Linked DNA regions of Homo sapiens: region 2 is linked to region 1. Evidence: fine-mapped expression QTL. A gene starts in region 1. The other region holds a variant in brackets. All regions are shown on one strand. Distances are between the middles of the regions.

What was found. PIP is the estimated chance that this variant, and not a neighbour inherited with it, causes the effect.
Region 2: its variant is fine-mapped to the expression of COL16A1 in cerebellar hemisphere (GTEx, PIP above 0.99). The same link has a PIP of 0.9 or more in cerebellum.

The regions. Positions count from the first base shown.
Region 1 is chr1:31,699,204-31,707,429 of GRCh38, forward strand. COL16A1 (collagen type XVI alpha 1 chain) reads right to left here and starts at 4,814. Exons shown (of 71, transcript NM_001856.4): 1 at 4,634-4,814; 2 at 2,918-3,024; 3 at 838-912; 4 at 610-727. The coding sequence starts at 2,990. RefSeq lists enhancers at 1-666, 2,173-2,925 and a silencer at 6,235-6,284.
Region 2 is chr1:31,668,909-31,677,290 of GRCh38, forward strand. COL16A1 (collagen type XVI alpha 1 chain) reads right to left here. Exons shown (of 71, transcript NM_001856.4): 43 at 6,350-6,403; 44 at 6,099-6,131; 45 at 3,816-3,932; 46 at 3,688-3,729; 47 at 3,508-3,594; 48 at 2,707-2,751; 49 at 1,694-1,738. LOC101929444 (a long non-coding RNA gene) reads left to right here and starts at 896. Exons shown (of 2, transcript XR_001737631.2): 1 at 896-1,444; 2 at 1,924-2,159. The variant A/G (reference allele first, on the strand shown) is at 4,184.

The DNA of each region.
Region 1 (8,226 bases):
TGGGGGCAGGGAGGCCATGAGCAAAGAATCCCCAGAATGACTATTTCGCTATCGCATTGCAATTTGAATAAGTGCTTCCAATGAACCCAGAATACCCTAGGTGAATAACTGGAGCAAGGGTGGAAGGAGAGATACTGAAAAAAAGATGGAAAGGGTTCAGCATGACCAGAGCAGCAAGAGATAAAAAAGAGCATTTTGAGAGCTGAGGTTGAAGAGGCAAGCAGGGGCCAGGCCAGGGCTTGTGGGAATTTGGACTTCACACACATGGGTGCACACACACGCATGTGCGCACACACACACATGCACACACGCACATGACTCTTGCCAGGTTCCCGCCCACATCCTGTGTTCTCACAGTGCCCACAGGATGCAGACCTGTTCCCACCCACTGCTGGCCAGAGACAGGGGAAAGACAGAAGGTAGGTCTGCCAGGTACCACCTCTCAGCCCACCCTGCAAGCCCAGGGGTGGAGACCAGGTTGACTCCTGGCAGGGGCTGGGATGCAATGACCCACAGACAGGCCCCTGGGCTTAAGCCCCACATCTGGAGTTGCTGAGGAGTGTGGCTGAGGTCAGTGTTGATTCTCAGTGGTCACATGGATGCATTTACCGCGTGGGCTGGGTCACGGGGGCCGCCCCCAGGCGCAGGATGAGAGGCCCCTTGGGGTTGCGGATCTTCTTGATGGCAGACGTCTTCATGAGGCTGAGTCGGTGGATGAGGTTGAAGCCTTTGGGGGAGACATCAGGTGAAGAGCTCAGCTGAGCAGGTGGAGAGGGGTACAGATCACTCCCAGAGGAAGGTTGCAGGGACGGCGCGATGAGATGGTTGGGTGCTCACCAGTCACGTTGGCTGGCAGGCTACTACTGTGTTCCAATTTGAGTCCTTCCTGCTGTGAAGGTGGGCATTGTGCACCTAGAAGAGAAGGGGCAGGGGGGCATTAGGTGCGCTCAGGCCAAGGTTGCTGCACGGCTGGACGCCTGGGGAACCTGGGAGGGAGCAAGTTTATAGTCCTCACTCTGGACCATCAGCTAGATCCTGCCTTCACCACCTGCCTTCTGACCCTGGCTCCCCAGGAAGCCTGGAGGCCCCCAACCCAGCATACAGTTTGGAAGACTGAGGTCCAGAGACTGAGGCCCAGGCCAAGGTCACTAAGTGAGCCAACAGCAGAGCAGGCCCAGAACTCCAGGAACCCAAATCTCCCAGCACTCCAAGTCAGGAGCTAGGCCAGCAAGGGAGAGAATACACGAAGCTCTAGGTGGCTCTCGAGCACAGATGGAGTGGGGAGCTGTGTATTTACACATGTGCCCCCTCCATGACATACACCCAGGTGGGGGGCAGAGGAGCTCTTCAGGGGTAAGGAAATGTCAGAATCATGCACATTGTGTGTTATGTACAATTATATGTACGTGTCTGTACATGTGGGAGTTGTAGGTGCCCATGCCACGAGGGATGACATGTGCAGCTGGCACACGTGTTCTCAGCAATAGGAACGTCCTACATCCAAATCAGACAAGCAGGCCAGACACAAGTAGGAGCCAACAGAATGAATATTTACCTGAATAACCACCTTGTGAAACAGCGAGAAGAGACTGAGGGTCTGAGGGGACCACAAGCTCAAGGGTACCACCAGGGCCTTGGAGCTCCAGGAAGGGCATATTAATGGGTTAGGGCTCCCAGAGAAGGAGATAGCTTAACTCAGGTTTCCAAAGCCCTGAAAGAACAGGTGGGCAGCCATGGGCCTCCCTCGCCCTGGGGCTGACTGAGCAGAAGTGTTGGGGGAGGTGCTACAACAGGAAAGACAGAGGCCAGAATCAAAAAGGCCTTCTCATCAATGCAGAGGGATAGGTGGGAGAAGACGGTGAAGACAGCTCCTAGAAGCTGGCCTTGCACTCTCTGGCTAGACTGGCTGGAAGAAGGAATCCTGGGGCCCTGGGGCCCGGTGCCAATGACCCCACTGCACTCTCCCTCCCCCAGGTCTGGTCAGAAAGACCATCACTGTCTTCAGCATCACAGCAGCAATGGGTGACTCACCCCTTGGCAATGGGCCCAGATTCCTTACAGATGTTGAAATTATCTGCCCCATCCCCCCCAGGGGACCCAGTGAGGGAGAGGAGAGCAAAGCTCACGCACACACAAGCAGAAACACATATGTGCACATACAAGGGGCAGGCGGCCACACTCACCCTGGGTCCACAATCCCTTTCACCTCAGCTTCTTGGTTTTTCTGCTTTTCCTAGCTGGGTTTGGGTCCTAGGAGTTCTGTTCCTGCTTGGCGAAGCAGCTGAGCTACTGAGCCCAGAGGGCACCCAGCAAGGCCAGGCAAGTTGCCCGGTCAACTTCCCCTGGCTTTGGGCCCTGGAAAGCTGCACCCTCTGTCTCATCCAGAGTCTGGGCCTCGGGGTGGGCCTTTTATTAGAGATTCAGGGCCAGCCGTGGAGGAGGAGAAGCACGTGAGCTAGAGGGATGGAGTCTCCACCATGAAAAGGATCAGCAGGACTTGGGGTTCTCTGGGGAGGCGGCGTCCTTCTGCAGGGAGAGCTCACTGCCTGTTCCTCCCCACCCCACTGGTCCTACCAGCAATGTGTCCACAGGATTGGCTTACGTATTGGGGTGGGAGGTTGTTCTCTTACACACAGAGACACAGGAATACATACGAATGCACAAAGCCAGTCTGAGAGACAAACACAGAGATGCTCAGAGACATAAACGTACGAAGACACAGGCACACACACTCTCCAGCTCACTGCACACAGGCTCAAGGGTGCCAACACCTCAGATCACCCTGAGCCCAGCCCCTAGACTCTGCTATAACTGCCCACACGACCACACATACATGGTCACATATGTGCAAGGACCCCAGCACCCCAGGATACCAGTTGCAGGCCTGTGATACTGTGACTCTCCTGTGTCATCTCACCTGTATTTGCCCCATGGCCGAAGGTAGCCCAAAGACCGAGCAGCCACAGGCCAGGAGCCCAGGATACCCACATCCCGGTCCAAAGAGGTCAGCTACAGCCACAGCACCTGAAAACCACAGAGACCGGGAAGGCGGATTTCTGAGTTCACACAGCACAACTCCACACGTGGGCAAGTCGTGGACAGCCTGTGGGGCCCAGGCACTGGTATTGGGGTGGCAGGAGGTCTGGCCAGGCATCAGTCTCTCTCAGAGGCCCAACCACAGCCCTTGGGCTAGGATTTGAGCAGAGGCGATATTCAAAATATTTAACCACCGGTATGGCACGGATACCAGCTTTCAGGCAAAGCAGAAAGCTGCCTACTGCACTGAAATAGTGTCCAGGCAGCATCTGGCTGTGCCAGTGGATACTTGCTGGATTGGGAGAGGTCTAGAAGGTCTTAGAAGGCCAGAGAAGTTGGAATAGTGATGAGGGCTTAAAGAAGAGGCTATTCTTCAAGACACGTGGAAGTATTTCAAGTCTAGCATCTTGTGCACTGTCCTGGTATATATACCAGCCTGATACCTTACTAGCGCACCCAGCTCAGCCCAGGAAGCCCTCCCAGGCACCCACAGGGTCAGGGGCTGGTGACTGGGCTGAGATTGTGGGCCACAGCCTTCCATAGGGCTGTGTGGGGGCCAAGGAAGCTTTCCCCATAGGTATAGTGGGCAGGAGAGCAGGTCTCTAGGGCTCAGGACCTCATTGCCAGCCACCCCCGCCCCCAGCTGATGGATGCTTGTCTTTTAGTTTTATTAAACCCTGATGGATGGGCCCAGATAAATCGATGCAGGCTCAGCAAGTGGCCAGCAGAGCCATACATCGTCTGGCCTCCCCCAGGACAGGCAGCTCACGTGCACAAACACAGAGCCATGCATGTGTCAGCACAGCACATGCAGATGCGCAGGTACATGTACATAAGGACACATATGTGGTACCAGTGTGCATACAAAGCTATCTGCACACAGGCATGCTCACGGAAACATATGCTCGCTGATATACCCAGACACACCAGCTTGCATATACCCACATGCGCACAGCCAGCCTATGACCACTCCTCCTGTAGGTCTTCCTGTTGGGAAGTTCTAATGCAAGTCTGACTGCATTCCTTCCAACTCTAATGAAATCCAATTTTCCTTCCCTCAATCATGGATAGGAAATGAAAACAGAAAGGACCCCTTACCCCAATATATTTGGAGATAGGACTCCAGCCCCCTTCTCCCTGGGACAGAACTGTGCCCCCAGCCTGCCTATTCATCCCCCATCCTAGTGATATACACATCCCAGCTCTCAAACCCTATCCTGGTCTTCCTCCTGCCAGCCAATAGAAGGGCTGCCAGCTGTGGCGCCATGTGGGTGCATGTGGAGGCGTGAGGATGGATGTGATCCTGTCCCCTTCCGGCTCCTAGTCTCTGGTCGCCACTCCTCAGGCTCCAGCCAGAGTGCAGGGCTGCAAGGACAGAGCCAGAGAAGCTTCCAAGGAGACGGCTCACCCCAACACAGAGGCATAGATTTGGGCGCAGGGAGTCAGAACCAGGATGGAGTTTAGAGCTCATCTCGCTCTAGAGAAGACGACCAAGGCCCAGAGAGGGAATGCCACTTTCCTCAGGTCACACAGCAAGTCTGGCAGAAAGGGCCTCTCAGCCCAGAGCCCTGAGGCCGCCCACTGTATCCCTACTTACCGGTGGCCGGGGATCCCCCCACCTCACTGAGCAGTCCAGGCAGCAGGCGGAGGAAGCAGAGCCCAGGTTCCTCAGGTCCGCTAGGGGTTCTCTATCTCTCCGTGACGGTCACGGGTCCCCAGCTTCCTGGCGCTCGAGCTCTCCCGGCTGTCTGCTGCCCGGCGCACGCCTGCCGGGGACTGCCGGCCACTCCGGGTGGGGGAAGAGAGGCGGTTCCAGGGGGCTGGGGGCCTGCCAGGGACACTAATGGAACACAGCTGGACCGGCCCGCCAGGGAGGAGGAGGAGGAGGGCCTAGAGGGGGCTCCAGCGGCACCAGAGGCGGCTAGACTGCGGGGTGCACAGCCCCGCCCCGGGTCTGGCCGAGCTCCCAGGCCCGCCCCTCCTGCCTCACCGCCAGGTGAGCGATCCTCGAGCTAGGCGGGACCCTACGTGCCCAGAGCTGCCCTGGAAGGGGGCTCCTGCGGGCCCTTTAAGAGTCAGGCCTGGAGTTTGAAGAGCTCCCCCTTTCCATGTCCCTGGCTGGGCCCCCAGAAGGCTGCGGGGTGGGGGGGCGGGGAGGGGACAGGGGTGGAGGGAGCAGGGTAGAGACCCTCCTCCCAAGTGCGTGGCACCCATGATGTGGCTGCCGCCCAAGCCTCGGTGGTCAGCTTTTTCCAATTCCTCTGCCTAACATTCCCAGTCAGTCTGTCCCTAGGTCTGTCTGTACTGGGAGGAGGAGGGTGGGAACCCCCTCCCTCCTCCGTGCTAAATTAACCCCCTCTGCTCTGGCCTGACTCCCAGAGAAGTGAGACTGAGGGAGTCCCCTTATTCCTCCTTACTCCATGAGGTTGGAAGGGCTCAAATCCCTGGCCCCTGCTCTGGCTTTGCGGTTCCAAATGTGCTGTGTAACCATACTCCGTTTTCTCATCTGGAAGATGGGATCGTGAGAGTATATGCCTCATAGACCTTTGCTGTAAGCAGGAAATGGGCCAAAGGCTGTAAGCGCTTAGCACACGGTCTGGCACATGAGAGGAGCTCAGTAAATATTTGCTGCTATTATCGTTATTACTGTGATCCCTGGCAGGGGACGGGACTGGATTTCAAGCCTTTACACCAGCACTGGGGAGGGACCTGCTTTATATTCACGGTCCAAGGACGCAAGAGGAATTGAGCTGGGCTGAAAGATTGGAGCTCTGAGGAGGAAGGAGCCGGTAATGTTCCGAGTTCTGCCCAGAGGCAGGGCCGTTGACCAAGGTGGAATCCCCACCAAGGGTCTCCTCCCGCTGTAGACCGAAAGCAAATTTATTGGCACCAAGGCTGAGGATCCACAAAGTAGGTTCAAGAGGCCATGAGATGCTGGGCTGAAGAGGGAGAAACTGAGCGTCCCCAGTTGAGGGGGGCTCTGGGGGCTCTGTGGAAGCAACGCGCCTAGCCCTGTGGCCTCGGCTAACCCGGGGTAGGGGGAGGTTGTAGGGGCAGGCCTGGGATTTCCCGCCTCCAGACCCAGAGGCGCTGAGTCAGCGGAAACCCCAACCACGCCACAGAGGCGCCCCACTGTGGTCCCAGTGAGGAGCTGGCCCCAGATGTGGCTGTGGCAGTGGTGGGGCCTGGGAAGTGCTGAGCTCAGCAGGCGGGAAGCGGAGGGGGTGGGGCCTTCTGAGCACTCTGGCCTGCGGGGTGGGTGGGCACAGGCCCCGCCTGCCCTACCAGAGGGTGCTGCCCCAGCAGTGGGCACTCGGGAGAGGTGGGAAGCGCATATAGGTCAGGCTCTGTGCTGAGAACTTCACATATGCTAACTCCTTCGATCTTTACAACAACGCCTTAAGGCAGAATTCCATTTTTATTCCCAAACCTGCAGCACAGGAAAAACACAACTTGCCCGGGATCCCACAGCTAGTCAGTGGTGGAGCAGAACTCATGTCCAGCCAGCCTAGACTCAGCACGTGCTCTTAACCACCATGCCATCCTGACAGCTCCCACCCGTGCCCCAGACAGGGCAGGTGGCTGGGCCAGGGATGGAGGAACCTGAGAAGGGAGAGCCAGATGCCTTCCCACAGCACCCCAAGGGTGCTCACAGGAACAGCCAAGCCTGGGACACACCTTACGCCTAGAAACACTATCATAGACAGTCTAGGAATGTGCCCATGCCCCTTCCTCCCTTCCACACATACGTGCACACATCCAGAAACACGCAGTCAGGTAAAGTTCTAGCACAGCACTTGAGTACGCAGACTCCATATGCATGTATAGGCACTCATGTTCACACAGACACACCCTGGCCCTAGAAACAGTTACACACAGATGTGTAGAGACTCAAGATACGCCTCCACATCAAAGATACACAGAAACACATGTAAGAGCCCAGATTACCCCACAGAAATATATCCCTGGACATATCCAAACACAGGTACATAATTCTCAGAATGCCTGCATACAGCACTGTATATACTCGAATGTGCACACACAGACACATGCCTGTACACATAGACATGTGTGCACATAAACATACATGTGACCACAGGCATAATTACTCAGATATGCAAGCAGAGAAGCCTGCAGACCTGCAGCACATACATGTGTGCACACAGACATAGATGGCCACACAGACTCGGCTCCCAGAGAAACAGCCACTGGGACATGCACACACTGACACATGTACACACATGCATACATGCAGCTGTGCTGACACTTTTACATGCAGTCAGTGCCAGAAAGCCCTGCACGCCAGCAACCCGGGTATCCCGTGAGGCTGGGCTCAGCGCCCTCACCCCAGATGGCATCACCACGAGGTAATCAATGCTGCTAATCACCACCAGCTGCCCTGGAGCCTGCATGCTGCTGCTGCATGGGGCTACCAAGGCCTTCTGGACCTGGGGTAGTATGCCCAGATGTTGGCAGTGCCCAAGGGCCCTCCGCCCCCCACTGGGGAATCCCTGTCTGGCAGGGGCAGCCCCTGGGGCTGGGGCAGGTTGAAGAGCCAACCCAGGGCCTGGTCCCAGGACAGGTCCGGGAGCCCCCACGCGTTCAAGCAGAGATGGTGTAAAGTTCTGAGGCTTGAACAGTGGACCAGAACCCCCACATGTACACGTGCACACCTGGGCCCTGGCATATGCGCATACGGGCTCACACGCAGACACATCACACATGATTGATTACTCTTCACAGATATGCCCTTCCTGACTTCCTCATCCCTTTAAATGCCACGATAATTCATTCTGATGCTCAGGTAAAAACCTGAAAACCTTGGCTCCTTTCTTTTCCCTACCACCCCCATCCAATCCTGTCAGTTCTACCCCCCAAATACAGCCCACGTCCATCCACTCCTCCCCACCTCCACAGCTGCAACCCTCACCCAGACCATGATCATCTTCTGCTGGGCTGTTGCAAGAGCCCCCAGCTGATCTGCCTGCTGCCTTGGGGCCCCACCACCCACTTACTTCCCACCTGGTGGCCAGTAAGACCTTTTCTTTTCTTTTCTTTTTTCTTTTCTTTCTTTCTTCCCACCTGGCAGCCAGTAATACCTTTTCTTTTCTTTTCTTTTCTTTTCTTTTCTTTTCTTTTCTTTTCTTTTCTTTCTTTCTTTCTTTCTCTCTTTTTCTTTCTTTCTTTTTT
Region 2 (8,382 bases), 30 kb before region 1:
CCTGACTCCTTCCCCCTGCCCCACTGCCTTCTGTTCCCACTCCAGGCAAATATGGAGGCCATAGTGGCTCTCGTAGTGTCCCTAGAAGGTGACCCGTAATGGGTGTGCTCCAGCAGGATGACTGGTGGAGGTGTGAACCCCACATATGGGTGCCTCTCAGGAGGATACCCTTCAAGATAGATAACTATAGAGATATGCCCTCCAGCAGAGGTGACTCTGGGAGGGTATCTCTCAGGTGCCCGTCGCTGGTATGCCCTGCCATGGTAACTGACTGGCGTACACCTTTAGGAAGGTGATGGATCAGATGTGTGCTTATTCTGAGGGGCAACTGTCAGGAGAGGTACCCCAGATGGATGCTGCCACCAAAGTGTATCATATCATCAGATACCCAACACTTACCTGTCCAAGTCCCCCACCCCAAGCAAAAATCACTTTCTTGGAGGGAGGCAGGGGAGAGACACAGGAAGGCTGCCTCCAGAGCAGTCCCTGTCACTTTGTAGGGTGAGAGGGCATGTCACTTTCCACGAGAGCTACAGCCCCCACCCCTAATTCCTTACCCCAGCCTTTGCAGGTGCCATGCCATTAAGGGCACCTTTCCTGCCCCCTTCTCCCTCATCCCCTCAAGAGATGACGCCCAAACCTTTCCATGACATAAGACAGATGGCTAGACGGACAGATGGCCCCTTCACCCAAGCAAGCAGAAACAGACAAGGCCCGGCCACAGATGAGGACGTGGGGACAGATGGAACTGTGACGAGGAGGGGCCCTGCTCCCTGAGCCTCCATCACCAGGCCTGGGAGGAGAGGAGCCAGGCCCCAGGAACACAAAACCTGACAAACAGGAGGTTAGTTTCCGTGACCCAGGAGGGAGCAACAATGAGGCTGGGGGTGATGTAAACACACCTGTGACGATGACGAAGGCAGAGCAATTAACGACACCTGGCAGAAGGAGCCGGCCAAGGTGCCGGGCACAGAGGGGCAGGGCCGCACGACACCCAGAAACCCAACTGGCTGATATCACATGCCCCGCCTTGGAGCAGACTGGGACTGGAGCCAAGGAAGAGGAAGCGAAGAGGAGGCAGCTGAGAGTTTCCTCTAGGACGACGGAAAAGGCGCAGGAAGGGCTGCCTTTAAATCCCTGGGTGCCTCTGGACAGCCCTGCCAAGCAGCAGGGCAGCAAACCTGTGCCAGCCTGCAATGTGAAGCCCTAAAGCTTTGGCATCTCTGCTGGGCTCTGAGCCAGGTGCCTGGCAGGGCCCCAAGAACTACTTTCAGCAAATCTTCAGGCAACGCCGAAGGTGGTGAGAAGCAGGAGGCAGAGCGAGAAGGCAGGAATGGAGGGGCCCCCTAGAGGCACCAGCTTAAGAGGAAGGTTCACGAGCTCAGGAGGACTTGGGGGAGTGCTGCAAGATGGTGCGAGAAATGGAGAAGGAAGACAGAACGGGGTAAGAGAGAGAAGAGGAGAGAAAGAACGCAGGAGAGGAGGGAGAGGAGAAAACGGAAAGGAGTCAGAGACTGGGAGGATGTCCAAGCTGCCGGGACCTCAGAGAACCCGTGTCGTTAGCTACCGTGCCTGAAGGGGGACAACAAACACGGAGGACGGAGGTGAAGGCACGACAGGAGGGAGACAAGCAAAAGCCACAGAGACCTGGCTGACGGGGGGGAGGGGAGGTCGAGCAGCGCTAGGTTCTTACAGGCAATCCGGGGGAGCCAACAGCACCAGGAAAACCTGGGGGGCCCTGGTGGGAGAAACAGGCAGGTCACATCTCACAGGCACAGTAACCCTGGGACAGCCTGGAGGGCACAGTCTGGGGCTTGGGGGTCATGGGGAGAGGAGGTCATGGGAGTATTTTCAAGGCAGCTGGAAAAGAGACTCCTTGAAAGTCTTGGCTCAAAAGACAACTGTTCCTCCCCTTGGCTCCAGGAAGAATGGCTCCTCCGTTGACGGAGATGCGGAATGGCTCCAGAGTCAGAGGGCTTCCTGAGTCTTCCGGAGTCTAACTGAAGATCCGGTTGCAGCAGAAGCCCATTTCTTTCAGCCTTGCCCACCATGCCTGCCACCCGACCTCCACCTGTCCCCCGAGTGGGGGGCTCCCTGGCTCTAAGACAGCTCCCACCAGCCATTTTCTTCTCCAGAGAAAGCATTTTCAGTTCTTTCAATCTTTCCTAGTCACTTCTATTTTCCTGCCATGTCAACATCACAGAGGACTCCAGAGTAGATACCCTGGTCTGGTTTTTGTAGATTTACCCTAGAGATGGCCCTACAGAGCAATGGAGGACAGCTCCATCTTAGCCCCGAGCCCTTGTGGGGACTGGAGTCACAGGGGCATGGAGAGGTCTGGCCAGCATGCCGCATGCTTCCCTGGTTGGGAGGCTGTGAGCCTGAAGCCTAGGCCCCCTGCCGAGGGCGGCCTGGGGCCACTGTGGAAAGCGCAGCAGAGGGTGGGGACAGGGAAGCAAAGAGGTGCCTCTGAGGACCTCCCCTAAGCAGGACCGCAGGCAGTAGGCAGAGCAGGGCGGTTCCAGGGCATCCGGTGGTGGGAGAGCACAGTCCCTGCAGATGCTCTGCGGAGGGATGGGGAGGGCAGTGGAAGTTCCCTCCTCCTGCCTTGCCCAGCCTTTTGGGGACAAGGCCGCGGGATGGTGTCTGAGTGTAATGACCCCTTTGAGAGCTTCTCAAGCAGACCAGGGCACCACTGATACTTACGATAGGGCCTGGAGGACCCGGGGAGCCCCTCATGCCAGGCGGACCCTGCAAAGGAAGCCAAGGGAAATGGATGAAGAGGCCCAGGCCCCATAGAGCCCCTGGGATTCCAGCAGCCTTCCTCCCAGCTTGCCAGGGCCAAGGTCAACAGAGGGTGGCTGCTGTCCAAGCAGGACCACTTAGCTGATGTTCGAACAATCTTTCATTTGGCCCATTCGGTCATCCTACAAACATTTAACAAGCAACTATTACGTACCAGGCATTAGTCCAGGGGCTAGGATCACAGCATAAACAAAATAAATAAAAACCCCTGCCTCAAAGCAGTTACATTCTAGGGGAGAGACGGACACTAACAAATAGAACAGGAGCTGGCACATAGTTGGTGTTGAGCTGACACCTGTAGAATGTTCCTGAATGAAGTAAATAGGCAGGATGTTGGATGGTGATGAGTATGATGCAGGCCAAGGGGACTGGAGGCTCTGGGGTTGGTGTGGAGTTCAATTTTAAAGAGGGTGGTCAGGGGAGGTCTCTCTGAGAAGGAGACATTTGAGCCGAGCTGAAGGAGTGCAGGAATAAGCCCTGGAGAAGAGCGTTGCAGGCAGAGGATGCAGCTGGGCACTGGGGAGAAAGAGTGTGTCCTACGCTGGGTCCTGTGTATCCCAGAGAAGCCACGTGCCAGGAGAGCAGATGAGCCCAGAGTGGTAAAGGGCATCAGTCAGGTGAGGCCTCGGAGGCCCCCAAGAGGTCTCAAAGGCAGACAGGGCCCCAGCTCCCTTGAGGATGAATCCCCATCCCTGGTCTTACCTCTTCTCCTCTCTGGCCTGGCAATCCCGGAGGACCAGGTAGGCCTGGGCTCCCAACACAGCCAGGATCTCCCTCACTGTTGTCACCCTGGAGAAGGATGGAGACGGTGATAGTGAGCAGTCAGGGCCTGTCCCTGTGGGGCATGGGGCATGATCGGGGGAGATAAGGCGAGGCACTCACCCGGGCCTCCTCGGCTCTTGGGCGCTCCAGTGACAAAAAGCACTGCAAGGGACAATGAGAGGCACATTGTCTGATGAGGCAGCCAGGGAACCCTCCTGCATAGGGCAGCCCCAAGCCCAGTCCCTTACCTGGGCGCAGTTGTCGAGGCCTGGCACACCAGGGATGCCCTGGTCTCCCTTCTCTCCCTTCTCCACGAGGTACCCTGGGTGGGCCCTCTGCCCCTGGACACAGTCCCCGCAGATACTCTGATCAGGGAGTGGGGAGAGGAGTGGGGCCTGGGTTAGAGATGGGCAGGATGGGCCAACTGGGGAGCCCCAGTGAGAACCCAGAGCCAGGGCTCCCTGCCCTGCCGTCTTCCCTCCTCCCACACTCCCTCCCTCCCCAGCCGCATCCCTGCGGCAGCTTTGCTCCATCCTCGGGGGACCCACTCCCAACAATTGGCTTTGAGTTTCCTCCAGGAAGAAGCTCTGGTACAGCTAAGCCAAAGCCACTTTCC[A/G]GACAGGCATGTGGGTGGAGGCGAGGGGCCCGCAGAGGGACCATCTGTCCCGGCTGTTCCTGCAACCTGCACCCACTGCGAGGACAAGCCACGAGGAGTGAGGCTGGAAAGGCTGGCTCCGAACGCCAGCTTCTCTGCCCAAGGGAGCAAAGGAACAGCTGCGGGAGGAGCCAGGCCCTTCCCAGGAGCCCCTGGGACAGATCTCAGATTGCTCACAGGCTCCTGGCTCGGATCGCGCCACCAGAATTGTCTTCCCCACAGGAAGGGCTTTAACCTTCTTTGGGTCACAGACCCCTCTGAGAGTTTGATGGAAGCTATGGGTCCTTTTCTCAGAAAAATCAAACCCACTAGTGAAAACCAGCCTGCAATTTCTGAGGACTCAGGAGCCCGGAGCCTGTTTGTGGCCAGTGTCGTGTCCACAGATGCCCAGGCAGGAGCCCCTGCTCACTTTCACTGCTCACCACCAAGCCCAGTAATAACGACTGGCATTTACTCAGCACCCATGACGCTGGGCATTGTACATAATAAGCCCTGCACATTATCACATGCCATCTTGACGGCGCAGTGAGACAGGGAATCTTATAAGCATTGTGGAGATGGGAAAGCCCACTCAAGAGAGGCGGCGTGACTTGTCTAAGGAAAGTGGGAGCCTGGATTGGCGTGGGCCTGTCCTAGGCCACAGCCAGTGCTCTCTCCCCAGGCTTCCTGGACTATGGGTGCAGGTGGTGGCTGGGGCTCTGGGTCAGCATGCCCCGGGGTGCCATCTGACCCCTTCTCCACACTATGCGCACTTTCTATTTGGAATCCTCTGAAGAGCACTTGATGAAGAAGCCAACAGATGAAATGTTACAGGAGAAATGTCAAATCCTGGATTTGGAGTCACACGATCACTGCCCAGTCATTGACAGAAGCAGAGGGGAGAAGAGCTGGGGGTTTCGTTGCCACAACCTCACTGTGATCCAACATGTAACTGATGCCAAGAGGTTACCCCGACCTCCTCTGGCTGCTTCTGGAGAAATCTGCCGTTCAGAGCAGGGAAGGGGTAGACAGCCCCCATGCTCTGCCCTGACCAAGGCCCATCGGGGTCATGGGATGTCCAGGGCACTAATTAGCCAGTGTCAGAAGAGGGTGGCCAGGATGAGGGGGGGCTCTGGAGGCCAACACATGGGAAAGACCCCTGAGGATGCTGGGCTAGAGGAGAGAAAGTCCAGGAACATAAGGGCCTCCTTCAAAAACCTGAAGGCAACCTGGGGAATTACTGTGCTCTCGTTTCTAGAGGTGACTAAGCAAAGATGGGCTATGTGACTCTTGATTCCAATAGGAACTTCTGCTCAGTTTGGGAAGCCGGCCCAGGCCACAGCCCTCTGGTAGAGCATTAAGGCTGTGTACAGGCCCTGGCACAGGCCGACCCTCTGACCAGGTCCGAAGTCCCCTTTCTTAGACTACCAGAAGTGCTTCTCAAATCCATCTCCTCCCTGGATTCTTTCTGGATTGACTAGAGAACAGCTGAAGCTTTCTTCCAGGCCACACCCAATCTCACAGCCCCCCACCACTGCACTTTCACCCCCTCTGCTTTGCTTTGGAAGCTGCTGGGCTCTGCCGCAGGGTGACCCGGGTGCTACGGGGTCTCATTGCCAGCTGCTGCGGGCAGGCTTCAGGGCTGGGTTCTGCCGACAGCATCTGCCATGTGGGCACCTTCACAGGATTCCTTTAAGCACTCATTCAGCAAATGTTGCCTGGGGGCCTGTTACAAGCCAGGCATCAGCTAGGCCCTCTTAGACAGATGCTTGGAATGCGTATTCCCTGCAAACTGCTGCTCTCTCTGCGAGGTGCCACACAGCTGAGCACTTACTAAGAGAATCCCCTTAGGAGACACCCCCGCCAGCTCACACTTCCCTCCTGGGTACCCTCTTACCTTAAGGAGGTGCTGTTCAATTGGTAAGGATCCCTGCAAGAGACAGATGTGTGGGCTCAAGCAGGTGAGGGGAAGGAACATGGAGACTTATGGGATCAGGGAGAGCCTTGGGACACGTCATGCACCTTCCAGCCTCAGAAGTGGGAGAGAAGAGGGACCCCCACTGCAGCTACCGGGCCAGCTTCATAGCCTGAGCAGCCCTGGGAAGGGCAGGGAAGGGGCATGCACAGGGAGTCCTGGCCAGTACCCACCAGTTCTGCAGTGAGCCCAGGCTGTCCTGGCAAACCGTTGTTTCCAGGCACTCCCTGTAGCCAAGAAGAGACACGAGTGAGTGGGCTCCATCTCTCTAGCCTGCTGGTCAGCCTGTTTCCTTCTCATCATCCCCGCCTCCTCTTCCCCTTGTCCTGCAGAGCTGAGAGCCCTGGCTGGCACAAGGCTGACATCTATTCTTAGCTCAAAAGCCTCTCGACCCTTATAGGGAAAGCCAGGGAGGCCCAGAAGAGCGACCCCCCAAACCGTCCAACAGCAAGTGTTTTCCCCCCACATCAGAGGGAAGGTCAGAAATTGAGCAGAGGGTCTTCCATGGAACTACTGTTTATTTCTGTGCTAAGTCGTTTTTCTATATTTTCTCTCTTTCTTTTTCCTTTCCTTTTCTTTTTTCTTTTTTTCTTTGTAGAGACGGGGTCTCACTCTGTCACCCAGGCTGGAGTGCAATGGCATAATTATAGCTCACTGTAGCCTCAAACTCAGCTCAAGCGATTCTCCCACCTCAGCCTCCTGAGTAGCTGGGACTAGAGGCGCTCACCACCATGCCTGGCTAATTCTTTTGTGTTTATTATAGAGACCAGGTCTCGCTGGTAGGCTGGTCTCAAACTTCTGGGCTTAAGTGATCCTCCCCGCTCAGCCTCTCAAAATGTTGAAATTATAGGCGTGAACCACCACACCCAGCCTATTTTCTCGTTTAATCATCACAGCTATCTTGTTGAACTAGGTGCTGTTATCTCCATCTTAAAAATAGCACAAAGAACCCAGAGGAGGCTGGGCACGGTCACTCACACCTGCAATCGTAGCACTTTGGGAGGCCGAGGTGGGCGGATCACCTGAGGCCGGGAATTCGAGACCAGCCTGGCCAACATGGCGAAACCCCGTCTCTTCTAAAAATATAAAAGTTAGCAGGGCATGGTGGTGTGTGCCTGTGGTCCCAGATACACGGGAGGCTGAGACAGGAGAATCACTTGAACCTGGGAGATGGAGGTTGCAGTGAGCCAAGATTACGCCACTACACTTTAGTCTAGGCAACAGAGGGAGACTCCGTCTCAAAAAAAAAAAAAAAAAAGAACCCAGAGGAGTAAGTAACTTGCCAAAGGTCACAAGTTGAGCAAGGCACAGAGCTGAGGTCCAGAGCAAGGATCACTGGCTTCTAACCCCTCTCTTAACCACAATTCTAGCATCATTCCTCAACAGACATCCCCAGAACATTCATGTACACAGCAAGGGTGGGTACTTGCCAGTCAGATTCATCTAGATACAAAATTCTGACTACCTGTATAACTTTTGGCAATTTATTTGGGGGAAAAAAATTCTATGCCTCAGTTGCCTTATCTATAAAACAGGGATAGTTTATGGTGAGGCTTCAAGGAGACAATGGCTGCAACGATGTTTACATTAAATCCATGCCACCCGGACAATGTTCCCCTTGCAGATTCGTGAGGCACATTTGCATATTAAATACTCCATGGAGGCAGGGAGTATGTTCCATTTTGAATCCCCAGCACCCAACATGGAGGAGATGTGCAGTAAGTACGTGTTGAGTGAATGCACCGCTGCTCAGCCTGCTCCTCCCTGCACAGGATTTCCTTGGCGCACTCTGAGATCTGGCCTTCCTTCAAGTCCCAGCTCCCAGCAATGGAACATATCACCAGCCCCCGAGCAATTTCCAGGCAGGCTCTACCAGGCCTGGGTCAGACCCGGAGCCAGCCACCATCCAGGCCCCCTGGCACCTCTGTGCACCATCAGGGCTTAGAGCAGTGCCTGGCACAGGGAAAATGCCTTGAACATGTCAATTATTATTTTTTATTTATTATTATTATTATTATTTTTGAGATGTATCACTCTGTCGCCCAGGCTGGAGTGCAGTGGTGCAATCTCAGCTCATCGAAACCTCCGCTTCCTGGGTTCAAGCGATTCTCCTGCCTCAGCCTCCTGAGTAGCTGGGATTACAGGCATGCACCACAAAACCCGGTTAATTCTTTTTGTATTTTTAGTAGAGACGGGGTTTCGCCAT